Regions from separate parts of the Homo sapiens genome. Here all the other regions are reported to be linked to region 1. The links are microRNA targets in miRTarBase. Many come from high-throughput screens and were not tested one by one. Region 1 holds a microRNA gene; each other region holds the end of a gene's coding sequence.

Region 1 (6,205 bases):
TAGACATCCACAGTTGTCTCTGGATTTCCATAGGTGGTGACAGGCCAGTCCTTGCCCCAAATGTCCTAGATCAGTCCCCAGAACTGCCCAGCTCAGGCTCCTGTGGTAGCCTGTCATTCTTTAGAGAAACACCAATGGAGTAGACACTGTGGGATCTGCCCAGATCCCCTGTTCTGAGCTTACCCACTAAGCACTACTGGGAGCTTCTGGCAGGTCAGAGCTGTGTCCTCACTGTAAAGTGCTGTTCGGTGCAGAAAACAGACTCCTCCAGGTCTATGCCCTTTCTCAGTGAGGTTAGATTTCATGACTGCCTGAGGCCGAGTTCTCGACTCTGCCTCAATATAGGAAGACCTGAAAATCCTCCCAGCTCCACAGCTCTCTGTAGGAAAGACTTGAGACCTCAATGAGGGTCAGGGTCTCCTGCCCAGGGTTGCCTCCCTCACCTCCTTTCACATCCTCTGTGCATGCAATTCCTCATCTCAGAGTCTGCTTCCAGGGAACCCAATTAAGATCACCAGCCATCCCCAACATGGGCCATGTGGGACTTCAGGAGGCCACTGTATGCTGGAAAGCACCTGTTTATTCCTAAATTAGCACTGTGAGTATCCACACGCCCAATGAGATCTGAGTGTTTCTTGCATTTGCATGGAATGAGAAGGGAGCCTGACTCGCCAGGTGCTCTGGGGTCTAAGGGAGAGTTGGAGTCAGATCTCCCTGCAGGGAAACCTGGGGCAGGAGGAGCAGCCTTACCCCATGCAGGGACCACAGATGCACCCACAGGGTGAGCTTAAGTATGGACACTGCCTACCTCCACCCTCCACATCCTGTGTAAAAAATCATTCTTTCCACCCCTCCTCCAGCCTATCAAAGTTGACACTTAAAAAGCCACCACAACCCACCCTTGTCAACAGGAAACCCATTCACATCTCCATCAGCCACACAATCTCCACATAAAGATTCTTCAAAAAATAATAACAATAGCCATGCAAAGTATATGATATATATCATAAATAATTGTACTTAGATTATATATGAAAATGATACTCTTTTTGATATGCTAGGTAAATAAAATACATTATTTAAACTCATTGACTTCTTCTCTTTGTATTTATAACATGATGACTAGACAGTGGGATTCCCATGAGGCTCACATCACATTGTGATTGAACAAGGCTGGTCTGCAGGGCTTCAGGTTACAGGGGCTGTGGAGTGACCTGGTGCAGGAAGCCCCGTCTCCATCCATAGGACATCAGTGTGAACCCAGGGAGAGGCGCTGGTATAAGAGAGATGAGAACACAGGTGTGAACCACCTGCTTGTGCAGGGGACTGAGCCTTCACTTTGAGCCAAATAAGTTTTCTTTCCCAAGTTCGATCCTGAACAAGAGGGCTTTCTGGACTTCTTTTTGTTTTCAGGTTTGTGCCCCTTCAGGTTTGGGGCTGTCTGGAGTCCCAGCCAGGGGACAGTGAGGAAATCCAGCAGTCTCACACTGACTCTGTTGTATTTCATCTGCTGGGGCCATCCCAAACTGCTGCGTACCATTTCCTTTCCTGGTGCTCAAATAGCTGCTCCATGCACTTGTCATGGTTTTATAGCTCAATCTAGATGGGAAGACAGGATAGTGTATGTTACAATATTTAAATAGAACCTGAATCCCTTAATAGTTATTTTAATATGGAACATTAAAAGAGTTGCATCATAGGCAATGGGGAAAGATGAAGAAAGATTAAACGCATTTGGAGGAAAAACTAAAAATGTCTTTATTGAATGTCTGTGTGTCTTCAGTGTCGAAGGGTTGAGAGAGGTCAGCTTTAGGTTGTCCTGAGGATGTGCTCAGATGGGGGAAAGTAAGAAAGCCGGAAACGTGCATCTCTGTGACCTGACACATAAATCACAGTAAAATGGAAGTAAATCTTTCAATAAACCTTTCAAGATAACATCACTCTGGTGCACATAGAAAGGCCTGTTAGCAAACTTTCCCTTTTCCCTGCTGGCTCATATCCCCATGGATCACCTGTATGCAGAACGGACTCTGTGGTCTCCATTTATCAGGCTGAGAACCAGAGGCTGGGAAGGACAAGTCACCTGCTCATGAGTGGGAGGGGCAGGATTGGGAGCAGCGGACTCAGGCTCAGGACTGTGGCCCTGGTTGGTGCTCCTTGTTCCCTTCACAGGGTCCCACCCACATGTGCCCGTGTGGATGTGGGTGCACTGCCTGGGGTGGCTGATGTGCTCCAGGGATTTGATGGTGCAGATGCTTCAGGACAAAGCATGGGAGTGGGGATGGGACGAGGCTGCCGCTGGGCAGACCAGGGACCAACGCCACCCAGCAGAGGCTTCCAGTGGGGTTGGGCAGCCCCATTTCCTGAGAATAGAGAGAACCTGGCAATGAGTGCCAGAAAGAGGTTACTTCGAGGTGTGCCCAGGCCTGGAGGGTCACAGAGACACAGGCACCACACAGCAGAGACACTGAGGGCCAAGAGCTCACTCAGGTGAGGGGCTTCAGCAGATTTTTCTCTCCTGAGCAAATCACGTGCAAAGAAATCAACTTCCTGTCATCAGAATAGACAATCAGGGACTTTAGTCTCCTTGGCTGAGCCCCGCTGTCAAGGGAAGCAGAAGTCTCTAAGCCCAGGCCCAAGTGAGGGTGGGGTGAGAAGAGGAGCTCAGGATGCAGATTTGCATGGAGGTCCCGCCCTTCTCTGAGGCAGAGGGGATAAGACAGGGCTGGGGGCAGGCCCAGTGCTGGGGTCTCAGGAGGCAGCGCTCTCAGGACGTCACCACCATGGCCTGGGCTCTGCTCCTCCTCACCCTCCTCACTCAGGGCACAGGTGATGCCTCCAGGGAAGGGGCCACAGGGACCTCTGGGCTGATCCTTGGTCTCCTGCTCCTCAGGCTCACCTGGGCCCAGCACTGACTCACTAGACTGTGTTTCTCCCTTTCCAGGGTCCTGGGCCCAGTCTGCCCTGACTCAGCCTCCCTCCGCGTCCGGGTCTCCTGGACAGTCAGTCACCATCTCCTGCACTGGAACCAGCAGTGACGTTGGTGGTTATAACTATGTCTCCTGGTACCAACAGCACCCAGGCAAAGCCCCCAAACTCATGATTTATGAGGTCAGTAAGCGGCCCTCAGGGGTCCCTGATCGCTTCTCTGGCTCCAAGTCTGGCAACACGGCCTCCCTGACCGTCTCTGGGCTCCAGGCTGAGGATGAGGCTGATTATTACTGCAGCTCATATGCAGGCAGCAACAATTTCCACAGTGTTTTAAGTCAATGAGGAAGTAAGATCAAAACCTGCCCTGGGCTCTCAGGCCCCCTTCTTGCTCTGCAGATGCTTCCTCACGCTGTATAAGGGTTTCCTGCAGGATGGCCTTGACAATTCTCCTCTCTCAGCTCCTCTCCTTTCCCACCATGAGGTCTAAAAGGAAACCTGCTCGTGATTTCTCGTTCAGGACTGTGGCAACTTCCTTTTGCTTGTGTGCTCTGGTCCCTTAACGTGCAACTATTCCTAGCTCTTCAATGCAGGGACGTAGGGACAAGGAGTTTACTGCTTGGTGCAGTCCCTCCTGTTTTCAGGAACATCCTCATTCTAAATGCATCCCCCATCTGTCACACTATGCAGATCAATCTGGACAGAAGCCATCAGGGGGATGGCTTCCAGTTTCCAGGAATTGCATCTTGTTCCACTCTGTGTCCACCACGCTCTAATGAAGATGGCCCTCCTAGCTTAAAGTGACCACTTTAAGAAGACTTGAAGATGTTTTTGAGGGATTAAGAACAAAGAGGATGCTGCTGTTTTTCTTTTTATTGCTCCTGCTCTTTGCCGAAATTCCTCAGGTTGCTGAGCTGGGGAGATTTTGAGTGACAGGCTCAGTGCTCTCGCAGAATTCTCCTCCCCTCACATCGCTGAGGCCCTGTCCTGGAAACTCCTCACAAGTGGACGGTCTTCCCATAGGATGGGGGATTCCAAAATGGCTCCACAGGAAAGAGTTAACCTGAGTCCACCTCCCTTCCTCATGGACATCGAGCATTTCTAATTTTCATGGCTGTCAATACTTTTGTACCTGGAATCCCTAATAATCTAATGGTGAGAATTGATTTAGAACACATTCGGACATTAGCTGGGTCCAATATTTAAATTTTCTGAGCCAGTTGTTAAATACAGCTATTATCATATATAGTTTAGGCTCCTTAAACTTCGATTATACAGATTATATTTAAAACAAAGTAACTAGTTTACTATATATATTTACAAAGTAACTACTATATAACATCATGTTGTGTACCTGAAATATAAACACTAAAATTTATTTCAAAAACCAAAGTGTATTGTCTATTGATGCATAAAAAAACACTCACAAAACTTAGCACACTAAGAGAACACATGTCTGTGACCTTGTGACTTGGATGCACCTAGAATTGGGAGTAGCTTAGTTTGGTCATTCTCGCTCCTGGTTAATCACGAGGTTGCAGCCAAGCTGTCAGGCCAGGCTGCATTCAGGCTACATCTGCCAAAGAGGTTAGGAACTGTGGAAGCCTCCCTCTGGCTGTGGAAGCCTCCCTCTGGCTGTGGAAGCCTCCCTCTGGCTGGGAGACTTCCGCAGTTCCTAACCTCTTTGGCAGATGTAGATCATCTCAAGGATAAAGGAGAGAGTGGAGTGAAGGCCCCTGTCCTTGTCCTCCATGTAAAAGACCATCCCATGCATGCACTATTTTTTATTCTTTGCTGAGACATCCTAGGCATAGAGCACTGCCCCATTCATTCAAAGGTTGTAGAGTATTCTATGGTAGAATTTTAGCCAACTCACTTTTAATGGTTATTATCACTATTTTGATCTTATAAATAACACTGCAGCGAACATCCTTATGTAGACTCCTTTGATTTTATATGTAGACATGACCATAGAATAAATTTCTAGAAGTCAAATTGCTGAGTCAAAAGGATGTGTGCTTGTAATTTTCACTCACTGTCCTCAGATTCTCCTCTAGAGGGGTTATCTACAAATTCGCAATGTCAGCCATAAATATTCGAACAGAGTACACTGGGGAAAGTTTAAATGTTTTTCAACCTAGCAGATTTAAAAATGTTATCTTTTTTTAGTTTTGATTTCTCCTGTTCTGCTTGAAGTTGAGCATTTTCTCTAATACTTCAGTGCTATTTATTTTTATAATTTGGTAAACATTTTCTTAAATGTCCAGATAAGAAGGATTTTGGTCTGTGGTTCCCAAGAGTCAACTTTGAGGATATTCTGTAGGTATTTTTAGCACCATTTATAGTGTAACCATTTAAACCTATAAAAACCACTCTCAGCTCTGGGGCCATGGAAAAACAGGTGGCAGGACAGGGATGGCCCACAGGATGTGGTTTAACGGTCCCTGATTTGTAGGGTAATTTGAAGTTTGAGAATTCCACCGCATATGTTCTAGGTGGAGATCTCTATTTGAAGGATACTGTATTTTACCTCCTATAGTGGCCTGAGGCTTTTGGATAAGAACATACTTGTATCATCTATTTAATTGGATCTTGGGTCTTCCCAGGACAGCCCTGTGTCACAGTCTCATGTTTTTCATCTCATCCATTTGCTCTGAGTTTTCAGAAAGCTTTAGTATATCAGAAATAGACTGACCCTAGGTGGAAAATCAGAGGTACCGGGAGCAGCAAATGGTCAGGGAAGCTTGCACCAACTCTGGAATAAACCAGTACAGGCTCAGAGAAAAACATCATAAAATCAGCATTGTAGCTGAAACCAAAAACATGCATGATCTTTGAAGTTCTGGGGATTATAAATAAATAAATGAAGTTTAAGGTTTAAATGTGTTGCAAATTTACATAAAGCATGTAGATTTTAAAACTCAGAATGTAGCAATGAAATATGGAAGCTTGAGATTTTAAGCTGTTAAGGCCCTACAACAAATTGCCAGGAACAGAACAGGAACTTGATAGTCATAATGTCTTATGCTGGAAATTATCATTTTCTCTAAATGAAATTTTTTTCCCTTTTTTCTTAGACATAAGGAAACATCTCATTGAACACCCTTCTTTTCCACTGTCAAACACCCTTACCCAGAAAGGAACTGTAACATTAAGTAGGAAACAACTGCTTTTTTTCATAACTATTGAGAGATTTCTTTATTTGCACATCAAAATGTTGATTGTCAATGCTAAAATTGGAATTAGTAGTTTAATATGCACACAAGAGATTAATTTT
Region 2 (6,205 bases), not on the chromosome of region 1:
TTAACACCTTTCCTCACCCAGAAATGGCCTAGCTTTGCAGTGCTAGCTTTGCAGTGCAGTCAAGATCACAACCCCAGAAGCCAGATTTAGGGAGTTCACATGCAGCCTTGACACCTACAGATACATGAATTGTCCCTCAGATACCGAGTGCAAGTGGGAAGTGATTCAGGTGATGAAAGGAAAGACAAATTTCCCTCATGGATATTTCTTTCTTCTCATTTGCCCAGAAATCCCAACTACCCTTATGAGTTCTCACGGAAAGTACCCACATTTGCAACCCCCTGGCCTGACTTTGTACCCCGTGCTGGTGGAGAGAACTACAAGGAGTTCAGTGAGCTGCTCCCCAATCGACAGGGCCTGAAGAAAGCCGACTGCTCCTTCTGGTCCAAGTACATCTCGTCTCTGAAGACATCTGCAGGTAGCAAAGCCCTGGGACAAGTGGAGGGAGCTGGGTGTTGATCTCAGCATCTGCTGTGCTCGCTGCATGAGACCTGTGCTGCGCGCGCATTGGAGCCAAGGGGTCACCAGTGCCAATGGCACAGCCCCTTCCTGTGAGTTGTTCATGGTCTGGGGAGCTCCATGTTGCCAAGGGCCTCCTGTTCTGATGTAGGGCTGGAAGGAAAAGAAAGAGAGGCACAGGAAGAGGGCAGTGGGGTGACTAGGAGAGAAGGTCTATGGGGGGTAGAATGCTGAACCAACATCAGGGCTTCCAGCCTAGAACGTTGGTATGGGAAGAGAAGGGAGTGTCTTGAACCTCATCCTCACAGTCCTTGAAGTCCTAGATAGAAAATCTTGGAGAGGTAACTCTAGCCAGGGGAAAAGTGGGCATTTCTACCTCTTCCTGTTGCAGAGGTGTTAAGGAGAGAAAAGAAATTATAATGAAGGCACTGGGAATAGAGAGTAAACACAATGCCCTTAGGAAGCTTTGGAATAACGGGTGTGAGTGACACAACCCAGGGGATGGCCCTCAGCTTTCCTGGAGCCATGATGGAAGCCTGTGTCTGAGTGAGCAGGAGCCCAGAGGAAGGAGGACTCACTCCTCCCTGGAGGCTCTAGGAAGGGTCCCCAGGAGAGGTGATGCTGGGCTGTGGTTTTTAGAATGACAGGAGTTTTTCAGATACAGAGAAATGGGAGTAGTCCGTTAAACAGGGAAGGGATCTTGTCCAGCTATAGTTTAGATTTTCAACTCTGCTTTTAGCTTCCAAGGCTGAGTGTCTGTCTGCTGACAACAAATCCAAGTACCATTGTACCCTTAGCATGTCCCTATAGCCAGGAGACCCATCTGGCACCTCAGCCAGTGGAAAATTCCCTCTAAAGGGCATTAGCAAGAAATGTCCACTGGAGGCTGGGGTCTCTTTGGGACAAAAGGAAGGGACCAGAGAAGAGAAGTCCTAATCTGGCTTGGACCAACCTTCCTTGCCCCTCTGTTTCAGATGGAGCCAAGGGCGGGCAGTCAGCAGAGAGTGAAGAGGAGGAGTTGACGGCTGGATCTGGGCTAAGAGAAGATCTCCTAAGCCTCCAGGAACCAGGCTCTAAGACCTACAGCAAGTGACCAGCCCTTGAGCTCCCCAAAAACCTCACCCGAGGCTGCCCACTATGGTCATCTTTTTCTCTAAAATAGCCACTTACCTTCAATAAAGTATCTACATGCGGTGAAGCATTGTTGACTCTAATGTGTGAATCCAAGGCAATTCGTTGGTAACACCAACTATATCTTAATAATCTTTCTAAGGTTTGAATCCCAGGCTGCTGTTTCCATTCAACAAATGTTTATGAGCATCTGTTATGCACCAGGCCCTGTGCTGGGTGCTGGAGAAACAAGGACTTTGCTCCTCCAGAAGGAGAGAATGCTGGGCAAACAGTGACACAAAAAATGGGGATCCATCAAGAGCAGGCCCCAGGTGGCATAGTCCCACCTGAGTGGTAGAAAAGACTCACTCACAAAGGTTCCAGAGTGGAGGTAGAAGACCAACTGGAATGGGTGCAATGGTCCAGTGAGAAGCAATGCACTCTGAAGCAAGACAATGAGGATGGAGCTGGGGCAAGAAACAGAGCCACAGGCCCTGGAGGAAGTAGAACTGATGGAACTTGATTAAATGTGAGAGGGGGTTGGTGCAAGGTGATAGAATTGCCCCAACTTTGGGATGATTTGGATTCCCGGATAAGCAATGTTCACCCTCCTAAGGGACACACGTTTAAGGCAAATATTCTGGTTAAAACGTTCTGTCTCTCCACCCCCTTTCACACACACATGGACACACACTTCACCCAAAGTAAAAGCAAGTGGAGCTGGTTAACAGTCTTGTTCACTTAGATGGCATGCCATCAAATGCATTCATACCCATCATGTTATTTGAGTTCAGAGTAAATTAGTGATGATTTGTAGGCTGAGATTTTTGTCCTATCTTGCAAATGTGGAAGGTGAGGCTCAGAAAGACTTACACTATACCTGAATTCACATGGTGAAGAGGAGGAGAATCAGAGTCCAACTCAGGTTTTCCCATTTCTCTGTTTCCATGCACTGTATGGACTATAAAATATAGGCCTAGGGTCACGTTGTGTGTCCTACAAAACCTACTGATAGCACTGAAAGCCCTGACTAGCCTCCAACCTGCATTATAGGCTCTGTTAGGATGGTTCAGCGAAAGCACTTAAATACTGAACTAAAAGGCCTTAACCAAAGGAAACTCGATAGGTAGATGGTCCCAGGGTTGGTCAGTGTCTCAGTGATGTCATTAAGGACCCAGACTCTTTCCAACCATCCTCTTTGCCATCTTCAGCGCATGAATGGTGTTTCAATTCACTGACATATTATGGCTGCCACAGCTCCAGACATCACACATAATCCCCAACAGCATCTCATGCTGGAGGCAAATGGGGAAGGAGCTAAAGGGCTTTCCCCTCCAGTGCTTCTTTCTTTTTTTGGAGGAAAAGTTTTTTCCCAGAGGTTCTCAGCAGAATTCCCCTTACATCTTTTTGGCTAGAACTAAGTCATGTGCTCCTTTTTTTTTTTTTTTTTTTTTTTTTGATGGAGTTTCACTCTTGTCGCCCAGGCTGGAGTGCAATGGCACAATCTTGACTCACCACAACCTCTGCCTCCCGGGTTCAAGGATTCTCCGGCTTCAAGGAATCCCAAGTAGCTGGGATTACAAGCATGTACGACCATGCCTGGCTAAGCTAATTTTTTTTTTTTGTATTTTTAGTAGAGACGGAGTTTCACCATGTGGGTCAGACTGGTCTCAAAGTCCTGCCCTCAAGTGATCCCGCCTCAAAGTGCTGAGATTACAGGTGTGAGCCACCGCGCCTGACCATATGCTCCCTTTTAAACCATCACTGGCAATGAGGGATGAAAGGGCCTTCTGTGATCCAATTATACCAGGCATGACTTATCCTCCAGAGTAGGACATATTGCTGTCCCAACAAAGCTGGGGTGCATTTAGCAGCAATGAATGAGGAGACAGTTATTGGGTAGACAATGGATGCCCCCAAGACTATGACAGTTGGGGCCATTTCCCCATCCTTGGGTCTCTCCTGGCATGGCCCCGGGTTGGAGTTGGCCTCAAGCACCTTTTTACTCCTTTAGTGCAGTGTGGGTTGAAAATCATGTGCTGTATTTGGAGGTGCTCTCGAGTTCCCAGAATCAGGAGTCATGGCCCTGGTGCTTCCTTGGTGTACCCTTAATCCAGGGTAAGGCTCCAGGATCTGGGGGCTCAGACAGGGGCAGGAGACATGGCTCCAGGAGGTAGTGCTCTGCATTCTCACTGTGTTTGGGTCTCCTGCGGTATCCAGACTGGGGGATGGATGAGACCTCTATCAGTTGTCTGTGGCTACTGTCAAAATTTTCACAAACTGAGTGGCTTGAAACGACAGAAATGTATTATTTCATAGTTCTGGACACCAGAGGCCCTGGATTGAGGTGTTACTGGGGCCGTTCCCACTCCAAGACTCTGAAGGAGGATCCAGCCCAGGCCTCTCTCCCACCTTCCAGTGGCTGCTGGTGGCCAGTGTGTTTCTTAGCTCATTACTGCCTTCTGATCCCTTCCTCTGTCCTCACTGGCCTTCTTCTCTGTGCATCAAACTTCCCTCTCTTTTCTCTTAGAAGGACACCAGTCATTGGATTTGGGCCACCCTAAATCCAAAATGATCTTATCCCATGATCCCTAATTTAATTACATGTGCAAAGACCCTAATTCTAAACAAGTTCACATCAACAGGCACTGAGGGTTAGGACTTAGATGTGTCTTTTGGAGGGGTCACAATGTAAACCACTATGGGACCCAGGGCTTGGGGACTGGACAGCATGTCCAGGAGGGGCGGGGGCTGGGCTGATGCAGTGCTATGGGAAAGCCCTCAAATCAGACTCTCTAAGAGGAGGAAGAGGAAGGGGCCTCTGTGGGTTTTGGAATGAGGCTTCAGGTATCTAGAAGGTCCTTCTGGCATAGCCCTCTCTATAGTCTGGCCCTAATAATGATAGAAATAAAATAAAAGCAATGTCATTTATCAAGGTCTCATGCCCTATATGAGGTTCTGTCCTCTGAACACTGTCTCATTTTTCTTTCTGAAAGGAAAGCTTGTTCTTGTGTTGCCATCAGGAATTCAGTGCTTGATATTCTACCCCTGAAGTTCTGTTCCTTTGGTTTTAATCACAGTCTGTTTTTAGTTAAAGTGAAAATTCCCTCCAGCAAAAGGGTAGGAGGTTTCTCCTCCACCAGCCCCTTAGTGGGACTTTGAAGTGAGGTAGGCTGGGCTGTAGTACCATGTTTGTCCAGGTGTTTGGATGAATTGGAGTAATTCCTTGGCCCAGTGGTTTCCATCCTTGACCGTTCATTGGAATCACCTGGGAACTTTCACAAACTCCCAATGCCCAGACCATATCCCAGACCAATTAGATCAGAATCCCTGGAGGATGGGGCCAGGCATTAAGGGATTGCAATGCATAGTCAAGAGCGGACACCACTCCTAATCTCCCTGATCTGCAGTTTCCTCACCTGTAGAATAGATTCAATTACATTGGGTGAGCAATGCTTAGCAAGGTGCAAGCTGGAAGCAATGTTGTTTCTTTCCCACCCTTCTCCATTTGTGGTAGATGGGATAACTAAGACTAGAGGAAATTAAAGTTGCAGATAGAGTTAAGGTTGCTAATCAACTGACTTTAAAATATCTGGAATTACACAGATGATGCTGATGTAATCACAGGGTCCTTAAAAGTAGAAGAGGGAGGGAGAAAAGAGGACCAGAGAGATGGCAGCATGAGAAGAATTTGGCCTGATGTTGCTGGCTTTGGAATAGAGAGAGGAGACCATGAAGCTAGGAATATAGGTGTCCTCTAGAAGGTGGAAAAGGAAAGGAAAATTATTCATCCTTAGAGGCTCCAGAAAGGATTGCACCCTGTGGACATCTTAATTTTCACCCATTTGAGATTCATGTTGAATTTGTGACCAACAGAATGGTAAGACAGTATATTTGTGTTGTTTTAAGCCCATAAATTTGTGAAAATTTGTTGTAGCAGCCATAGAAAACTAGTGCATCACTATACCTGTGCAGATGTATATTTTATCCTGCCCTTGGACCAAACCTCATATACCTAGCTCATGATTTTTCTGATAATAAAAAGTCTACTCTGGTATAATACAAACACCCCTTAAATTAACCAGCATTGGCCCTGAAAACAAATTGTTCATATTCCTTCACATTAGAGTTTAGTGATGAGCTAATGTTGGCGAACTGGTTTTTGACCGCCCCTTTGCAAGCCCTGCACGTATGGTCTAGCACCACCGGATGACGCCTGCTATTTTGTTCTCAGCCTTTGAAAACACCCCATTTTAACATCCTGTTATAATAATAACGCCTACTTTGCAGATTCACCCTGGTGACTAAGGGTGTGAATATATGTGAACAGAAAACAGCAAAGTGCTGTTCACAAAGATCTTGAAGTTAACCATGGATTTGAGGCACTTGCTATGTGCCAATGCATGAGAAAGGTAAAGATGGGAAATAGGAGGGACCCAGAGGCCAGGCGATCACAGTCCTACCCTGGAACTACCTTCAGAAACCTGCAGCGGAAGAGACAATCTACAATAGCTAGGGTGTGTGAGCTGCAGGAGATCAGAGTTCCTATTAAGACAAGTAGGGGAAGGTAATGCCCCAGGCCCCACGGTCAGCCCTCTCAGACCTGGCTTCCAGAACTCTGGGCTCTGGACTCCCA
Region 3 (6,205 bases), not on the chromosome of region 1:
TCCTACCAGAAAGAGGCGGCTCAGATCCCCAGAGACAGAGGCATCTGGAGAACTCAGAGGAGCCCCCAGAGCGGCGGTCACGGGTTAGTTCAGTAATCAGGGAGAAACTTCAGGAGGTCTTACAAGATCTGGGCCTGGGCCCTGAGGCTTCCCTCTCCACCGCCCCCTCTTGTCATCAGCAAACCTGGAAGAACAGTGCTGCCTTCAGCCCCCAAAAGATGCCCCTCTCCAAGGAGCTCGGCTTTAGCCCTTACATGGTGAGGAGAAGGCGGGCAGCTCAGCGGGCCCGCTCACACTTTCCTGGCTCTGCACCCTCATCTGTGGGGCATCGGGCAAACAGGACTGTTCCTGGGGCACACAGCAGGCTACATGTGCAGAATGGGGACAGCCCCAGCCTGGCCCCACAAACTACTGATTCCAGAGTACGAAGACCTTCTTCCAGGAAGCCTTCACTACCTTCAGATCCTCAAGACAGACCAGGTACCCTGGAGGGCAGCAAACAAAGCCAGACAGAGCCCGAGGGGGCTAGAGGGAGCAAAGCAGCCTTTCTTCGCCAGCCTTCTGGTTCTGGCCGGGCCCCAAGTCCTGCTGCCCCATGCCTCTCCAAAGCCTCACCTGACTTGCCTGAACAGTGGCAGCTGTGGCCCCCAGTGCCCTCAGGCTGTGCCTCCCTGTCTTCTCAACACAGCTATTTTGATACTGAGTCCAGCAGCTCAGATGAGTTCTTCTGCCGCTGCCACCGGCCCTACTGTGAAATCTGCTTCCAGAGCTCTTCTGACTCTAGTGACAGTGGCACATCAGACACTGACCCTGAGCCTACTGGGGGGCTGGCTTCCTGGGAAAAGCTGTGGGCCCGCTCCAAGCCTATTGTGAACTTCAAAGATGACTTGAAACCCACGCTGGTGTGAAAAGCAACAGAGCTGGTCTAGACACAGAGGTCAGTCCAAGAGAAGCTGTACCAAGGCCCACAGGAGAAGAGCCAATTTCTGGTCTTTGGGGAACAGATTAGTGCCCTGCATTTGACCAGCCCATACCATGTTTCAGCTAGGCTCACTGTGTTACTTTGAGTACTTCTTGATCTATAAAAAGAGAGGCATTGCCTGTCCTGTTACTACCTCGCAGCCTTACTATAAAAGACTCCAGTTGAGTGACTATGAAAGACACTGACTCCTTGGATAAAAGGTGCTGAATGAACACATAGGATTTTCTGTCCAGGTCAGCCTACATTCTGTAAAACTCTTAATATATTCAGATGGATGGCTGAATGGACAGACAGATGGAGAGATGCATGGGAAATTTCTGTAGAACTTGAGGTGTGGACTGTGACCCATCAAACTGGCCTTTTGGTGGACAGACCTACCAGGAAGATAAGTCTCCTACATCCTTGGGCCTCCCACTCCTGGAAGGCAGTGGTTTTATTTCTGCTGAATGTTGTGAACAGCACCTCCCTAGATTCCAGCTTCTGGCCAGACCCAGCTCAGAGCCACCCCTACACCACTATTTCTTGATGGTGTCTTTCCACCATTATGGCACTTTACCCTCCTCTCTGAGACAGATCTCCATGCGCCCGCAGGCTTCCCAGATCTCTCCCCTGGGATCGGATGTACCTGAGGTCCTGACTGTCCCCACTGTCCCCTTGTCCTGTGGCTCATCCTCGATTCACCCACTGATGCAGTTTTGTACTGCGGGGAGGCACACACCAGCAATTTCTGTTGGGGTATGGGAGAACCTGTTGGTCAAGAGTGCTTTTGGTTCCATTGGGGTTACATGACTACCAACAGACACATAAACCTGGAAGCCAAATGGAGAAATAAAAAGGAAGACACGAGGGACACGAAAACAGGAAAGAAAACAGGATTTGAATATTTCACTTGAGTCCAGCATAGTACTTGGCAATATCATATTTTTGTGATTCCTTTTGATAACCCTGTGAAGTAGACACTTTCATTTTTACAGACAAGGATTATGAGGCTTAGAGAAATGAGGTAGTTTCCCGCAACATCACACTGCTGGACAGAGATGTACACACAGCTCCTGGGACTCAAGTAGGTGGGTTTTCCCAGGGACACATGGCTTCATGTGTTCTTCTGGGAATGGCAGGTGACGCTTGGCAGACGAGACAACAAAGCAAGGCTCATGTAAGAAAGCTGGGATGTGCTCCCCTATAGTCCAGAATAATAGACCTGGGTCCTCACCTCAGGAAACGGGCCTCCACTTCCTCACTGCCAAAGGCCACACTGGCACCTCCCAAGGGAGCTGGGGAGCTGGTGAAGGATGAGTGCGAGGAACTCAGCCACCACCAGAGCCACAGGGAGAGCACACCTGGGTCCACTGTGCTTATTGCTGAGCTGGCTGTCATGTCCAGGCTGTCCCCTGCCCCGAGTCCTGTGTATACATCTGTGGGTGTGCACATGTTTGCATGAAGGAATTCAGGCCTTATTAAATATTCTCAGAGGGGGGCATTTGGCTCTAAATGTATCATCAATTTATCATGGAATCTTGGGGGCTGCTGACACCCCTGGACTCTCCAGGCACTGAACCATGAGGCCCTCCTGGAAGCACAGCTTCTTCTATCATCTACTTTTAAACAGGAATTTCCTAATTTATTCTGTGCATGGGTTTGCAGTTTCTTGTGCTGTGTGTGTGCTGTCCAAGTGGTACCATAATAAAAGAGAAATGACTCCCGAGAGGAGTCTTTTCAGAAACTGTAATCTGGGGCTGGCCAGGAGGGGCCCGGAGAAGGCTGACCCACCCAAAGAAGGGGAACCAGAGAAGCCATCAGAGCTGCTGCCGGGCTACCCTGGGTCCCAGTGTACCTTCTACCAAAGTTCCATTTGAACAGATTCTTCTGTGTTCTCCCTAAGAAGCCTCTTATCCCAGAAACACTCCCTCAATGGACATAGGAAACCCTGGAGACCCTGGACTCTTCCTGCCCCTGGGGGTCCTGTGGCTGGGCTCCCCCTCCTGCAGCTCCCTTCCTCCCAGCATGCCACCACTAGCAGCCCACCATTCATTCATGTGGACTCTAAATCTGGCAATCCTTCTAGCCTTCTCACTCTGTCTGCTTCTAGAACCTTAGTCCCACCATCCCCGCCCTTCTACATCTCCATCCTTCTGTTTAGAATTTTTTTTCCCACTTTGTGCCCTTGTGAATTATTCATCCTTCAAGGCTCAGGTGGAGCATACATTCTTTCTTCAACCTTTCCCAGCCATCCCCAAAGAAAGCTGATTGATTCCCTAGTTAAATAAGGAAGGATGGGCTGGAAGCAGTGGCTCACGTCTGTAATCCCAGCACTTCGGGAGGCCGAGGCGGCCGGATGACGAGGTCAGGATTTCAAGACCAGCCTGGCCAACATGGTGAAACCCCGTCTCTACTAAAAATACAAAAATTAGCCGGGCGTGGGTGGCACATGCCTGTAATCCCAGCTACTCAGGAGCCTGAGGCAGGAAAATTGCTTGAACCGGGAGACAGAGGTTGTACTAAGCCTAGATGGTGCCACTGCACTCAAGCCTGGGTGACAGAGCAAGACTCCGTTTCGAGAAGAAAGAAAGAAGAAAGAGAAAAAAGAGAAGGAAGGCTGTCTTAGGGTCTGTATTTTGGACTCAACTATATAGAGGCTTCTGTTATCCATTTGACCTAGAATGACTTTGTAACGCTTGCCAGACCTGATTGAAATTTATCATTTTGTTCAAAAGCAATGTGCAAACACCATAACTGTGCTCAACAAAATGTTGCCACCAAATGTATCATTTACTCTGTGCATCACCCCTACCCTTCCCCACCTCCTTTCCTAAATTTTTACCTAAGATCAGCTAATCCAGTGATGAAATCCTTAAAGGGCTGAATGTGCCATGACTTTTGGCATGCTCTTGGTTGTTCTGCTCTTGAAGAAAGGGCAGTAAATTGTGCAAAGGAATCCTGGAGAAGTAAACATTGCCTCTGCTGCTGTCATCTGAGCTATACATGTCTCTGTTGGTCCTAAGGCATAGCATGGAGCCAGGCCTGATTCTAACCCCAGCATATGTCCTCTGCTGTTGAAAATCTTGGAATTTCAACATTTGGATTCCATCCTGATCCCAATGTCTTTCCCTGTCCTGGTCTGCCACAAACCCTCTTTCCTTAAAGGTTCAACTTGGCCTTCCTAGAGTTCATAGAGGAGAAAAAAAGCATCAGAGGCAGGAGGCCTGTTTTTAAAGAATGATATCACTTTGAAAGAGGAAAAGAGAAAAGTCAATGCAAGTTCTATAAAATCTCTTCTGTATCTGTGTTTATCGTATTATCTTTACATGTGTCTCCTCCACAGATTCCAAGCTCCTGAAAGCATTGAGCATGTCTTCTCCATCGTTTTTCTCCTCTAGAGTAGCCATTACAGATCTTTGCACAAAGTATACACCCAACAAATGCTAGATGGGTGGATTTCTGGGTAGATAAATGGGTGAAACAAAGGAAGGCAAAGTTTCTGTTTTGGGGCCAGAGCGGAGGAGCAGGAGGAAAAACACGCATCTGGTTCCACTGCCTTCCGGTGAGTTAACAGCATGAAACTACATCACCTGCAGACCCAGGAGTCACTGAATTCTGAAAATGACAGTACTTTAAGTTTGTTGGGGGGTTGGGGAACAGGGCAATGAAGTTTATGGAAGAGAAGCGCAAAGTTCTTGATAAAGTTCTTGTCTTAAAGACGTTTTCTTTGCAGGCTTGTTAATGAGTAACAAGCAGTATTAGCAGAAGAAAGACCTGTTTGTCTCTATCACCAACAGCTTCCTGAGTCCCCTTTCTCAGAACTCCAAACAAAACAGTTTCTCTATTCCCTCCGGCCACTGCACTTTTCCCAGTAACACAATCTGGGCTCTGTTAAGGAAGGGTTTGTTTGTTTATTTATTTATTTATTTATTTATTTTTATTTTTTGAGATGGAGTCTCATTCTGTTGCCTTGGCTGGAGTGCAGTGGCGTGGTCTCAGCTCACTGCAACCTGCACCTTCTGGGTTCAAGCAATTCTCCTGCCTCAGCCTCCCAAGTAGCTGGGATTACAGGCACCTGCCACTACACCTGGCTGATTTTTGTATTTTTAATAGAGACGCGGTTTCACCATGTTGGCCACACTGGTCTTGAACTCATGACATCGTGATCTGCCTGCCTCGGCCTCCCAAGAGGGAGGGTTTAATGCAGACAGTGGTGTTTAGGAGGCTGAAAGCAGGAGAGAGCTTATCACTTTGCCCTCAGAGTTTGCTTTCCCTATCCCTGGCACCCACTCTGATGTCTTGCTCCTTGAAACATTCTTGACCTTAGCATTCCCCAATCAAACCACATTTGAATAAGAGAACATCTTGAGATGTTTTGTTCACCACTTAAGTCACAAGAAGACAGGAAATGCCAATGTCACAAATCAAAACCTGTTGTGAACTTGAAAAGGTCTGTGTCAAGGTTTCCCAAGAAACATTAGGCTCAGAGAATAAGTGCCTGGGAGACACCCTGGAAAGGTCTGTGGGTGACTAAGAAGAAAGCAAAAGGCTAGGAGAAAAAAAGGGAAGATGGATAAGAAGTTCAGGCACGGTCCCATGGCTCACGCCTGTAATCCCAATGCCTTGGAAGGACAAGGCAGGAGGATTGCTTGAGCCCAGGAGTCCAAGACGAGCCTGGGTAACAGAGTGAGAACCTGTCTCTACAAAAAATAAAAAATCAGCTGTGTGTGGTGGCTCATGCCTGTGGTCCCAGCTACTCGGGAGGCTGAGGCAGGAGGATCTCTTGAGCCTGGGAGGTTGAGACTGCAGTGAGTTATGATTGTGACACCGCAATCCAGCCTGGGTGACCCAGTGAAACTTCAACTCAACAAGAAAGAGGAAGAGAAAGAGGAAGAGGAAGAAGAAGAGAAGAGGAAGAAGAAGAAGAGAAGAGAAGAGGAAGAAGAAGAAGTCCAAACAACAGAGAGATGAGAAGAGAGATGTGGTGAAGGAGCAAGCCAATCAAAGAACAAAAGGCATCCTATGTGGACAGTTTGTGGCAATTGCCTCTCACATAAATAAATGTACTGACGCCAGTTCTAAGTTGAGAGGTGAGGCTTGCTTCTGCGAAGAATGGCAGAGATATCCTTGCAGAGTCCTTTCTTTAGGGCATGTGTGACTGTTCATTTCTCCACTTTTCCCGTTAAGACTGTGAGCTCTTTGAGCTTAGAACTTGTTATAATTATCTTGGAATCCAGTACCTAG
Region 4 (6,205 bases), not on the chromosome of region 1:
CCCGGGCTCCCCCCACCCGCTCCACTCCCTGACCCACAGCCTCATGATGAACATCACGCCATCTGACCTGCTCTTCCTGGCCTGCGTGGTGCCTGTGCTGCTGCTGAGCTTCCTGCAGCACAACTGGTGGCTGGGCCCTGCCATCTGCACCATTAGCCAGGCCACCAACACAGCCACCACGTTCTGCATCTTCTATAGCATGGTGGCCACAGCTCTCCTGCGCCATGTGGCTGTGGCCCGGCCTGACCTGGCCTTCCCAGCCGGCTGGGGCACCCTCTTGCTGCTCTGTGGGGCCATGTGGGCCCTGGGCCTTACAGAATCCCTGCCCAACTGGCTGTTCCAGAGGGTGGCAGTGGAGGAGGAGACAGCGGGGGCTCCCAAGACCCAGGCCTGCCTCTTGCTCCTGAGCCCTGCTGGGACCTCCTGCTACATCAGCCTGCTGGGAGCCCTGGCCTTCCTGCCATGCACGCTGGGGCTGGGCTGCTCTTTCAGCCACGTGGGCTGGCTCCTGTGGACCCAGCCCCAAGGTCCCATGGGAGAGAGCATCCAGGAGCATTAAGAGAACATAGGGCTCAGCCTTGTGGTGCTGGTGGTTTTTGTGCTGATGTGGGGGCCCTGCTCCATGCTGGGTTATGTGGCAGCCATGGGCTACCTGCCTGCCACACCGGCTGCTTTTGTGGCCTCCAGCCTCTGCACCATCCTGGCCTACTCCAATTGCGCTGTCAGCCCTATCCTCTGCTTCTACCTCTCCCGCCCCTTCCAGGCAGGACTCAGGGACCTCTTCTGCAGGCCGATGATGGCCAGGCATCCCAGAGGTGTGGGAGTGGCAGCCTCAGTGGTGGCGACTGTCCAGCCTGGCCGTGACAGGGCCTCAGGAGGCCTGTGGGGCCTGGCGGGGGTCTAAGAGTATAGGCTGATGGATGCGCTGAGATTCAAGGGAGATGGGAAGACCCTTAGGGACCTGACAGCCCATCCCCTCTATTTTACCAGTGGAGAGACTGAGACCCAGAGGGCAGATGGCCCAAACAAGGTCACAAAGCAACTAAATGGCTCAGCTAGAGCTCACATCTCTAGGTAACCAGATGGATCCTCCCACTCCACTTTCAGGCTCAGATCTCTGTAGGCTCCACTGCTCTCTAATTGTGTGATCTTGAGCCTCTGTGTCTCAGTGTTCTCATCTGGAAAATGGGATGATGACAGTACATACCTTCTTCACAGGGTTGTTATGAAGATGAATTTGCTAAACACATGTAAAGTGCTTAGAAGGATGCTTAGTAAGTGCATATGCGTGCTGGTCATTGCTACTATTATTATTTTATTTGTATTAATTCAGGGGTATTTGAGGTGAGTGGACAAGAGGAGGACAGAGGGGCTTCCAAAGGCAGAGAAGTGGGTGGAGAATGATCTGGGGGGTAACAGCCTAGGGTCCTTAATCCTGAAGGCCAGGAGATTGAGTAGGGGGAGCAGAGGGCCAGCCACAGCCTGGGGGGTGAGCTCAGAGGCAGGACAGCCTTTCCCCTCTCTGCCCACCCCTCCAGCTCTGTTCCACACACCCCTCAGTCCAATAGGGGGACAAAAATCCAGTCAACCATGCAGCCATGACTCCGGGACTGTGAATGTCTGAAGCCCTCCTTTCTTCCCTGTGGCTTCTCTTCCTGAAGCACCTGGGGCAGGGATCCCTTTCAGAGCCCTTTTCTTCTCTCCAGAGCCCAATTTGAGGTTTCCATTTTTCCCACCCTCAGTGCCCTCCCTCTGGCCTGCTCAGGGCAGGCTTCAGGCTTCCATGTTGGCCTGGAAACCCGGGAGATTGTCTCTACTGAAATTCCCAAGACAGCACGTTCTGCTTGGTGACGGTGTTACCAGCAAAACACACATACACACACTGACTCTGTGATACAAAGCTTGAGAAACGTTGGGTTGAACCAAATCATACTGGTCCCTTTGCTGTAGGACTTACCAGAGCCTTGAATACCCAAAAGGCCACTGAGACTCTCGAGAGGGACGCACAGCAGGCAGGTTCCCAAACTCCATGCCAGAGAGCCAGTATTCTGTGGAACACACCTTGGGAAAGAATCCACAAGATGCTACGGTGTTGGGCACAGCAAAGATGCTCTTGGTGTCCCGTCCCGCCCCCGGCAGTGGCTCTGTGCCTCAGTCCCCCTGCCAGGCAAGCACCCTCTCCTGACACTTTCCCACGGCCCCTGTGGTGAGGTGACATGAGCTGCTGGTTATGGGAACTTCCCTCCTTCCAAGCTGTGACCCCACCCTGTTCCCACTCAAAGCATATCAGAATGTAAGTCACAGGGGCATGTAATTATAGGGACAGCCGTGAATCAGCACCCATTTACTATAAAATCATAAGAAGTAAACAAGTCCCAAACTTTGGTATAATTAGTTCCAAATTTCTTGTGATGTTCAGGGTGGGAATGGCTGCCTGGAGGGCTAATCTGGGAACAAACTTGCCCAGAGAAGGGAGAAATCCCCTTTTGCTATGATCCTGGTCCCTGATGGCCACAGGGATTTATATGTGAAGAGGAACAAGAGGAAAACAGTGTTTCTTGGGCACCTAAAATGCCATGGGTCCTGGGCGCATGTCACATATGTCACATGCAACCTTATGTACTCGTCACTCTGGCCACACGATGACCCTGCAAGGATGGGGGTGGTGGTGACGACCCCATTGCACAGGGGATGCCAGACTCCTCCTCATGGCACAGTGACTCTGGTGCCCACAGATTACCCAGCCCCTCCTGATGGCTTGGCATCAGTACCCCATGGTTGTAGTATTTCCTCGCTCACTGCCCCAGAGCAGGGGCACCCCTGAGGGTGCAATTCTGTGTGTGCATCTCCAGCATGGTCTCCAATACGTGAGTGGGGCCTGGCACTCATGTTTGGTAAATACTTGTTGAGAGATGAGTGAATGAGTGATCAAATGCAATAAAGCAATCCGTTTATTTTAGAGGAAATTCTGATGATGTTACTCACTTCTCTCACCTCCTCAATGGCTTCCCGTTTCACTCAGTAAATGCCAAAGGCCTCATCATGGCCTATGCGGCCTGTGCATTCTGGCCTCTTCACCTCTCCGACCCCATCTCTAGCACTTTCCCTTCCTGCACTCAGCTCCAGCCACACTGGCCTCGCTCTCCTGCAAATGCACCAAGGAAGCTCCTACCACAGGGCCTTTGCGCCTGCTGGTCCCTCTACTTAGAGCTCCCTTCCCCAGATATCAGCGTGGCTCCCTGTCTTACTTCCTGGGGGCTCACCTCAACCATGACCTCCTCTGAGAGGCCCTCTCTGACCACCTCATCGAAAACATCACCCTCCTTCTCCCTCATGTGTCTTTAGAACTCTTGCTACCACCTGAAATGATGTTACTAGCCTATTTGTTGATGTGTTTGCTGGGTCTCTCCCATATTATCTGTGTGTGTGTTGTAAGCCCTGTGCAGGGACAGGGTCTGTGCTTTGTTCATGGCTGCATCCTCAATGCCTAGCACAGAGCGTGGCACGTGGCCTTTGATTGTAAATCTCACTGAAGCAAACAATTGAAGGAAGCCACAGAGGAGAACTGGACCCTGTCAAGCAGCAACGTCAGTGCTATTTTTCAGAGAAGAAAGAAAAACTTCGTGCTTTACTAAAAGAACCAAATTTACTTCAGTTTAAGGCAAATTCCACACAGAGACTGTCTCAGAGACGGGCACAGAACCAGACACCGTAGAAACACCACCACCATGCATGACGGGGAAGCAGAGGCAGGCGGAAGACGGGGGCCTGGCCTGCACCAGGCACGGAGAGGTCAGTGGGCTGAGGAGCTCCATGCGGCAACAGGGATTGGCATGCATGATCTGCTCCCCGAGTGGGCAAAGGCTGGGCAGCTGGGTGGGCCCGGGAGGGAGATCCCCTTCTTCCCCACCTTTCCCACAGCAGGGGCAGGAGCTCGGGCTCAGATGCCAGAGCCCCAGGCTGAAGGACTAGGGTATGTTTGGGGTGATGGGATGAGACAGGGTGACCCAAAAGCCAAGGCGGCCTCAAGTAGGGTCACATCTGTTAGGAGTAGGATGGGGGGAACTGGGCATGGGATGAATGACCCTCAGGATGTCAGACCTAAAGGAAAACCTGGGGCCATCTGGTCAACCCTCTTGTGGTACAGACATGGAAACTGAGGCCCAAAAGGTAGAAGGGCCTTGCTTGGGTTCCCACATTAGGCAGTGGGGGGAGGCAGGGCTCAAACCCAGGACTCCTGTCTCCTAGCCTCATGGGATACAGGGCAAAGAGCAGGAGCAGTGTGGGAACGTGGGGCTGAGCCACTCCTTACTCAGGCCTCCAGATGGGCAGAGGCGTGGGCACCGAGGGCCCTGGGAAGCCTCTGGAGGGAGGAAGGGATTCCTGAAGCCAGGAGTCAACCATGGAAGTACCTGTGGGCCCACACCAGGGAGAGGCCTCCACAGGCCATCTGTGTGTCTAGAACTTGCATCGTACTGAGTTCGAGAGGCACCAGAAAGGGCTCTGTGCTGAGCAGCCTCCACTTCAGGCCCATCACATGGCCTACGGTCCATGATTACAGCACCCCATGGGGTCCCCGGGGCTCCCAGCGCATCCAGTGTCCCTGGGAGGGTGCACATGTTCAGGCCTTCCTGCAAACCCATCAGCTTCATGGGGTTCACTGGAAATCGGGCACAGGATAGACCACAGGGCGGGGCTCAGGGACAGGAGTAGACACCATGGGAGGATGGGACGGAGATGGGGGGCTGGAGGAGGCCAAGCCCAGGCTTCAGGGTGACAGGTAAGCAAATAGGATTGCCGGGGGTGGGCGACAGGGACCCCAATCACCCTTATTGTTTACACCTTCCTGGCTGGGTTAGAGCCAGGTATTGGGGAAGAAGAGAAGGGCTGGGTCCCTGTGTACCCCTCTTTCACCCGTACCCCCCTAACTCCCTGGGTTTGGGCAATAAGTGAGGCCAAGAAATTGAGGAGGGGTCTTCAGAAGCCCCACCCCCTGGCAGCCTCCCAGGCACACAGATGTCCCAAAGGCCGGGCAGGCCAACTTCGGGGAGTCTGGGGCCCTGGCCTCCCATTCACCTGGCCTCTCCCAGGCCCCAGCCACCTGCCTGCTGAGACCAGGTTCAGATGTGCGTGTGCAGGGGGGACGCAGGGGGCGTGCGGGCTGGGGACTGCGAGGGCGAGTGGGTTGGTGCTGCGGGTGGGGGACGCGGGCGAATGCCCTGTGCCTTCATGTAGGACACCAGTTGGTCAGGGATCTCTGCCAGCACGTCTCGGGCCAGGCGGGCCATGCTCAGCACGTGGTTGCCTGTGCGGTCCACGTAGTCCCGGAAGGGTACAAACTGGCAAGTGGGAGGGCAGGGTCAGGCAGTGCCTCCTGTGGGACCCTGGCCCCCAAAATCTCCAGGCCTGGGGTTGCATCCCCACCCCCCTCCCAGCCTCTGCTCACTTGACTCAATCCCCCCACCTTTCTGAATTACCTGAGGGACTGTATCCCTCAACTCCCTGGGTTTGGGCAGTCAGTAACTATAGTCATAGTCACTATTCTTTCATTCACTCGACAAAAACTGAGCCCTATTCCACACCAGGACACACCACTGAACACGATTTCTCCACCTCGGCACTAAGCACAGGCTCTGAGTAGGTGCTTCCGAAATGCCAACTGAATCCCTGACTTCTGGGGCACGTGCCCTCCTGGGTTTCCCCCGACCTGTCCAGCAGAGCCCTCTCTCTCTGGCCTCTCTTCGTTCCTTTTCTCTCTGGGGCTAATCTGGCCAATGCCTAATGCCAGGCCCATCTGGCTTCTTCCCGGGGGTGCCCTCCATCCTGAGCGCCTCTTCTGGCTCACTCCTGCCTCCAGGCCTTAGCATGGGCCGGTCCCACCTCCCAGGTTGTCTTGCTCTGGTTTCCAGCCCCCTATGTTTGGTCTCCACACCTGGGATACTGGGCCCCAATTTTTAAACCAAGGGGGTATGCAGGATGTCAGCTTTGTCTTCTGCATCTCCTAAGCACTAGGGCCTCCTCTGCAGGGGATGAGTGGGGGAAGTGCTTGCGGAGGGTGCATTCTTCCACGTGAGACTGCATGGGAATTCCCTGAGGACAAAGGTCTTTCTGCTCATTATATTTGCACCGTTCATGGAGATGCTTACATTGATTCAGTTAACCGAGCAATGCCTATTCTTGGAGAAGGCTGCAGCAACACTAAAGA
Region 5 (6,205 bases), not on the chromosome of region 1:
CCCAGTTCAACCCTCCCTAAGCAGCAGTCCCAAAGATGCTCTAGCCCAAAGTGTCACCTGTCCCAGTTAATCTCCACCTTCCTTCTCATCCCACTTCCCCAGTCAGGCTCCTATATATGTGATGCCATTGATCTTTATACATTAGTATACACCGGTATTATGAGAAAAGCAGTCTATCTTATTTTCATTTATAAAATAATCTACATGAAATTGACTGACTACTCCCAATTTCAGGCAGTAGAGAGAAAATTTGGACCAGGTTAGGGGTTTCCAAAACCCTGTTAAATTACACAAGGCCCTAAGACAGGGTCAGAAATGAAGAAACTTTGGTAACTGGAGATGGTATCTCCCAACCTCATTGGTGTTTTACTGAATTTATGAAAACAGATGGAGGCAAAGATCACTAAATAGCAAGATTCTGTTTCAGTGAAAGGCTCTGCAACATGATCTGGTTTAACAAAGACTAAGCATCAATGATCTACCAGGTGCGATGCTTAATCCCTGAGGATGTGGAAAGAAAGGCATGCAAACAAAGACAGAGCACCCTGTGCAAGAATATCGGAGTACACAGGGAGGGAGTAGCCTCGTTTTGAGAATCTAAGAAAGGGAAACTGGAATCTGCCAGACATAGAGCGGGGCAGAGAAAAGAAAAGGCATTTCAGGCAGTGGACACAGGCCCGAAGTACCATTTGAAAACACACACAAACACACACACACACACACACACACACACACACACACACACACACCTCCAAAGAGCAAAGAACACTGCAATGGATGGGGCAAACTAAGCAGGCAGGACTACAAACACAGAAGACTGTGTTTGTGTTTGTGAGAAGACAAGACACTCCTGTCTTCTCACACTAAGGAGCTTAGATTCTTTGAACCCAATGAGGAATCACCAAATTTGTGATTTCAAAAGTTCACCTTGGCAGCAATGTGAAGATAGGTTTACAGGGTGAGACCAGATGCGTGACTATGGCTGAAGGCCAAGCCAATAGGAAACTGCTCATTCTGGCATGTGCTGAGAGTTCAGAAGCAAAGATGGAAGTATTTGCATTAGAGCCCTGCTCTAGGGGATGGGTTCAAAACACCAAGAACTACGTAATCCTTCTTTCCTACTTCTCGTTCAGCATCACCTTGCACTTCAAAATATCCTGTCCAGCTTCACCTGCTTTCAGCTACTCACGGAACCCAGTGTTCATGGTGCCACAGGTGAAGATAGAGATGGAGTCAGACTATGACTTCACAGACATGGATAAATACCGAAGAGAAACTGACAGTGAGACCACCCTCTAGGATGAAGCAGCTTCTCCCAGATGGGAGATGGAGAGCCTGGCTTAGTCTTCACTGGGAGGGTCTTAACTTCTCTGTGCCTGTTTCCTTCTTTATCAAACAGAGGGAGTCCGTCTGCCTATAGAAAACTGGAGATCTATTGATGAAAAGTATTGCTTAGATGCAAAGCTCTCCCCTTTGTAGTAATTAAAATACCTAAAGCTAAATATTATATTTTATTTTAAAATGCAGTTCAGCATAGAAATTCTAACATTTCTTTGGAAATAAAAAAATGCTTGTTTCCCCAAACCATAGCTAAGATAAAGGGGCAATAGTCAATTCATATTTAAAACAAATATCAATTTAAAATTGTTTAAAGGTTAGATTTAAATATAGATGTTCTCAAACAAACTTGTAATATACTTTTATGTCACTAGACCATCTTTGGAATATTTGGCAATTCTGCATATTAAGAAATGCTGAAAAGGTCCTATCTTTTCTCCCTGTCACATCCAATTTCCTAAGGGTTATATGAAAAGTTTGAACCAGCCGGGCACAGTGGCACACGCCTGTAATCCTAGCACTTTGGGAGGCCGAGGCAGGTGAATTGCCTGAGCTCAGGAGTTCGAGACCAGCCTAGGCAACACGGTGAAACCCCGTCTCTACTAAACTACAAAAAATTAGCCGGGTGTGGTGGCATGCACCTGTAGTCCCAGCTATTCGGGAGGCTGAGGCAGGAGAATCGCTTGAACCCAGGAGGCAGAAGTTGCAGTGAGCTGAGATGGCACCACTGCACTCCAGCCTAGGCAACAGAGTGAGACTCCGTATCCAAACAAAAAAAAAGTTTGAACCATCTGCATTATGGGCCTTGCTCCAGAAGTGTGACTGGGGCTTTCCCAGATTGAAAAGCCAGTTCCAAAACTCTGTTAATGAAAGAACCAATGCATCTGAGTGGATAAATGTTTCTAAAATAAAATAGTTCTTGTTAAAGTGAAATTTGAAACCACATGTTAAATCAAAATGATCCTTTAAATTAGTATCACTGGTTTTTCATACCTGGAATCACATTTCATGATACATTTGGGTGGGTCCTCCCTGCAAATTTTCAATGTTTATTCCCAAAGTCAAACTCCCATTCATGTGAACAATACAGGTTAGACAGAGGTAAGGTCACATTTTACATTACAACTTTGCAATATTAATCAACCTAGTACTTTAAAGGAATGATTGAAAACTATTTGGGAAGATAAAAACCAGTTTCAATGAAGCAAACCTATTCCTCATGAAACTTAAGATCAGTCATTTTATCTTCAATCCACATTTAATGAACACCAACCATGTTGATTTAATGCCTACTATGACCCTGACAGCCACAGTGCATCTGACACTTACTTTCTCCAAAACAACTATGATTTAAACCTTGAGTAAATCACTTGAACCTTGAGGTTAGAGTTACTATATTTGCTCAAGATGACAAATGCAGGTGCTTTCTTTTTTAAAGAAAAATGACACTAGATCATTAACACCTTGAGTATAGGACAGGTAATTGCCTCTGTAATTCCCAGCGTCTAGTGTAGTGCCTGGTCCATAGAAAGCTCTCAATAAGTGTTTGATTACATTTAATCTCAGAGCTCCCTTCCAAGGGATACTGCCAAGAGGTAAAGCTCCAAACCTCTACTCTTACTGAGAGCAGAATTTCTTAGAATTTCCAGAACCATCTCCTATGCTTAAGTATAAATTCTTGTCAGACACAGTGGCTCACACCTGTAATCCCGCTACTTGGGAGGCAGAGGTGGGGGGAATCAGCAGAGGTCAGGAGGTCAAGACCAGCCTGGGCAACATAGTGAGACCCATCTCTAAACAAATGTTTAAAAATTAGCTAGGCATGCTGGCACACACCTGTAGTCCCAGCCATTTCAGAGGCTGATGCAGGAGGATCGTTTAAGTCCAGGAGTTCAAGGCTGCAGTGAGCTATAATCATGCCACTGCACTCCAGCCAGGGAGACAGCTGGAATCCATGTCTTATAAACAATAATAATTAATTTTTAAAAAAAGTATTTATCATCCACACCAATCCTGGGGAAGCTAACAATCCACCCTTAACACATTTCAGTTTTAAAACCTGGCTGATCTGGAATAGAACTTTGTCCAAATTAAATTGTAGAAATGCTATGGATTCAAGAGTAAACCTGCTTGATTAATCAAACAAGCTGGAAAACTACTGTTAATTTCTTTGTTGTAAATTGATCACTGTAATTTTACCTTACATGTCATTTATATTTTGTATATACATGAACATTTTAATTTCCATAGCTTTTAACAGGTTGACATAATACTTCTCCATGCAGTAAGTCAGTCATTTTTTCCACTTGTAACTGTAATTCAATAAAATTTAATCCTGTCTGGTCATCTTGCTCCACATTTAATAATCTAGGTAAGCAGGCATGGATTAGAGACATAAGCTATACGTCACTTACAAAAACATCTCCAGCAAACTATCTAAACTTCTTTAAACTCCAGAGAACTATCAAAAGAATAACGCCAGCTGGCAGAAGAACGAGGACGGAGGTAGGTCAACTCAATTGTTTCTTCTCTTTCTGCCTCAAGCTGCCTAGAGCAGGAGCTACTTCTGCTCGCATGAAAGCCAAAAGCCAAAACAGACAAACCTATCCCTGCCTCAAGTATTTTACAGATTAAGCTCCTAGCTTGGCACAACCTGTTGTGATATAAGACTGTAGGACAGGCCAGGTGCAGTGGCTCACGCCTGTAATCCTAGCATTTTGGGAGGCCGAGGCAGGTGGATCACTTGAGGTCAGGAGTTTGAGACCAGCCTGGCCAATGTGATGAAACCCCATCTCTACTAAAAACACAAAAATTAGCCAGGCATGGTGGCATGCACCTGTAATCCCAGCTACTCAGGAGGCTGAGGCACAAGAATTGTTTGAACCCGAGAGGCAGAGGTTGCAGTGACCCGAGATCATGCCACTGCACTCCAGCCTGGGCAACAGAGCAAGACTCAGTCTCAAAACAAACAAACAAAGAGACTGGAGGACGAGGCTGGTTTCTCCAAAGCTCTTTAAACCTCTGTTTGGGTGTGGGTGGCCCAGGCCTGTAATCCCAGCCCTCTGGGAAGCTGAGGCAAGAGGATTGATTGCTTGAGGCCAGGAGTTCAATACCAGCCCAGGCAACATAGCAAGACCCCATCTCTACAAAAAAAAAAAAAAAAATAGAAGAAAAAAAATTATCTATTTAAGGCTATAGAAGTAAGTGTTACTGAATATAGGAATAGCTACATTGATTAAATGAGAAAAAAACTGGTTAGGTCACAACTAGGAGTCATAGGAAGACAGAATTTCAGAAATTCATACCATACCAGACAGATGTGTTTTATTAAAAAAGAAAGAAAACCCTTTAATCAGAAAGTCTGATTAAATTCAATAGTAACTCAAACTCTTAAAAAATTTCTGGAAAAGTCAACAGGATACATACATCACAGAAAAGCAGGCAGCTGCTGACAGTTCTTTGGTGGAAAAGTAAGTTGCGTACTTACCCAAGCTGCCCAAATGATTATCAAGCCAAGTTTGTTTTTCAAAAATAGGTTTTAAGATACACCAAAGAAACTATACAATACAAAAATTTAACAATGAAGTTAAAGTATATAGCAAAAGCCAAATATGACAACACACATGTATAATGTAGAAAAGAATCCTTTCAGTCCTAGAAAACTAAAATGGGGAGAACTTACTGAAGGGTAACATACATAAAATGAGTACTAATAGCAAGGAATAATCCTAAACATTTTCCCAATAAACTGACTAAGCCTCAAAAGGACAGCTTAGGAAAATGATTAACATGCAGTTTTTCTTTTTTCCTAGCCAATTCAGTTCTACTTAGATAAATCTGGTTGCCAATCAATACATATATAAATTAATTTTTTTCTGCTCAATTACTACCATTTTTTCTTTTTCACCTTTTCCCTAATTTTCTCTAGCAACACTTTTCCTTTGGTTTGATCAGTTGAACTCAAAAGGTTTGGTACCTAAAATGAGTATCAACTGTTATTGCAATAGCACTTGGGAAATGCAATCCTAGAAAAGGCGAATGTGTAACTGAGGTGCTTGACAAAGTGAAGCATCCATCCTCCATATGGTAATGTCTCCCATATTAATCACTAGGTTAATGGCTGCTCCTGGCTAGATCACAGGACCCTGCATGATACTGGAATGCTCCCTGGTGAGGTACTGCAGAGGTATGTGCAGAAACACCCACCCATTTAAGCTTTCAATAAATACAAGGCATCATTTTAAACCATTTCAGTAGAATAAATTAAAAATATTGCATTTCTATTGGCCTGCTTTGCTTCTTGAGCTGGCCTGGAGTGCTGTTTGTGACACAGAAGACACAGTAGTTAATTAGTGGCTACCCCAAGCTCTTTAGACTTCAGCACTTCTCGCTCTTCAAGCCTCAGCACCTTTTTTGCAGCAATAATGGTATTCTTCATTAGCATTGCCACTGTCATGGGGCCAACACCTCCAGGAACTGGAGTGATATACCCAGCTTTTTGTCTGACTCCTACATAGAAACAAGACAGGCAGGCTGCTTTAGTTATGGCAAAGGACATGTGTGTACTTTAATATATTATTAAACAAGCATGCAAGGAAAAAGTAACATACATAAGCATAAAACTCAAAAATCACATCTACATCATTCAAGGTTTTGTGAACACACTAGTAAAATAACATGCACATACAGAGTTGTTCAAGGAATATTTATACATCTAAGTAACCTATAAAGAAATCTATTAAAGAAATATCTAGTAGGTTAACTGTGTGGGAGTTGTAAGTATAACAATAATAAGCATTACCTCAATACCTGCCTATAGCATTTTCTTAATTTAATTTTAAGTATAATTTGTCCAAAGCAGAAAGCA

The links. Region 1 holds the annotated microRNA hsa-miR-650 (AGGAGGCAGCGCUCUCAGGAC, at 2,754-2,774, shown strand). A microRNA usually pairs through its seed, bases 2 to 8, with sites in the 3' UTR of a target mRNA and lowers its output. Matches are read on the target gene's strand: a 7mer-m8 pairs with bases 2 to 8, a 7mer-A1 pairs with bases 2 to 7 and ends in A, and an 8mer does both.
Region 2: the mRNA of TG is a reported target of hsa-miR-650. The part of its 3' UTR that is shown has no 7-base or 8-base seed match.
Region 3: the mRNA of GPR156 is a reported target of hsa-miR-650. Seed matches in the 3' UTR shown: 7mer-A1 at 2,208-2,214.
Region 4: miRTarBase lists CPNE5 as a target of hsa-miR-650. Seed matches in the 3' UTR shown: 7mer-m8 at 4,212-4,218.
Region 5: the mRNA of MTHFD2 is a reported target of hsa-miR-650. Seed matches in the 3' UTR shown: 7mer-m8 at 3,058-3,064.

The regions. Positions count from the first base shown.
Region 1 is chr22:22,820,038-22,826,242 of GRCh38, forward strand. It overlaps MIR650 (microRNA 650), which reads left to right and starts at 2,739; the gene lies at 2,739-2,834. It overlaps LOC105372948 (a long non-coding RNA gene), which reads right to left. Exons shown (of 4, transcript XR_938047.2): 4 at 944-1,599. It also overlaps IGL and IGLV2-8.
Region 2 is chr8:133,133,243-133,139,447 of GRCh38, forward strand. TG (thyroglobulin) reads left to right here. Exons shown (of 48, transcript NM_003235.5): 47 at 228-418; 48 at 1,434-1,657. The coding sequence ends at 1,552. Among named protein-coding and RNA genes, the nearest start is that of SLA, 34 kb to the left of the region's middle.
Region 3 is chr3:120,161,735-120,167,939 of GRCh38, reverse strand. It overlaps GPR156 (G protein-coupled receptor 156), which reads left to right. Exons shown (of 10, transcript NM_153002.3): 10 at 1-2,462. The coding sequence ends at 908. All of the region lies in intron 1 of LOC105374065 (a long non-coding RNA gene), which reads right to left. Among named protein-coding and RNA genes, the nearest start is that of GSK3B-DT, 70 kb to the right of the region's middle.
Region 4 is chr6:36,737,148-36,743,352 of GRCh38, forward strand. CPNE5 (copine 5) reads right to left here. Exons shown (of 21, transcript NM_020939.2): 21 at 3,628-5,339. The coding sequence ends at 5,121. It also overlaps the pseudogene GPR166P. Among named protein-coding and RNA genes, the nearest start is that of RAB44, 42 kb to the left of the region's middle.
Region 5 is chr2:74,213,721-74,219,925 of GRCh38, reverse strand. It overlaps MTHFD2 (methylenetetrahydrofolate dehydrogenase (NADP+ dependent) 2, methenyltetrahydrofolate cyclohydrolase), which reads right to left. Exons shown (of 8, transcript NM_006636.4): 8 at 2,361-5,847. The coding sequence ends at 5,684. SLC4A5 (solute carrier family 4 member 5) reads left to right here. Exons shown (of 31, transcript NM_133478.3): 31 at 1,134-3,684. Among named protein-coding and RNA genes, the nearest start is that of MTHFD2, 18 kb to the right of the region's middle.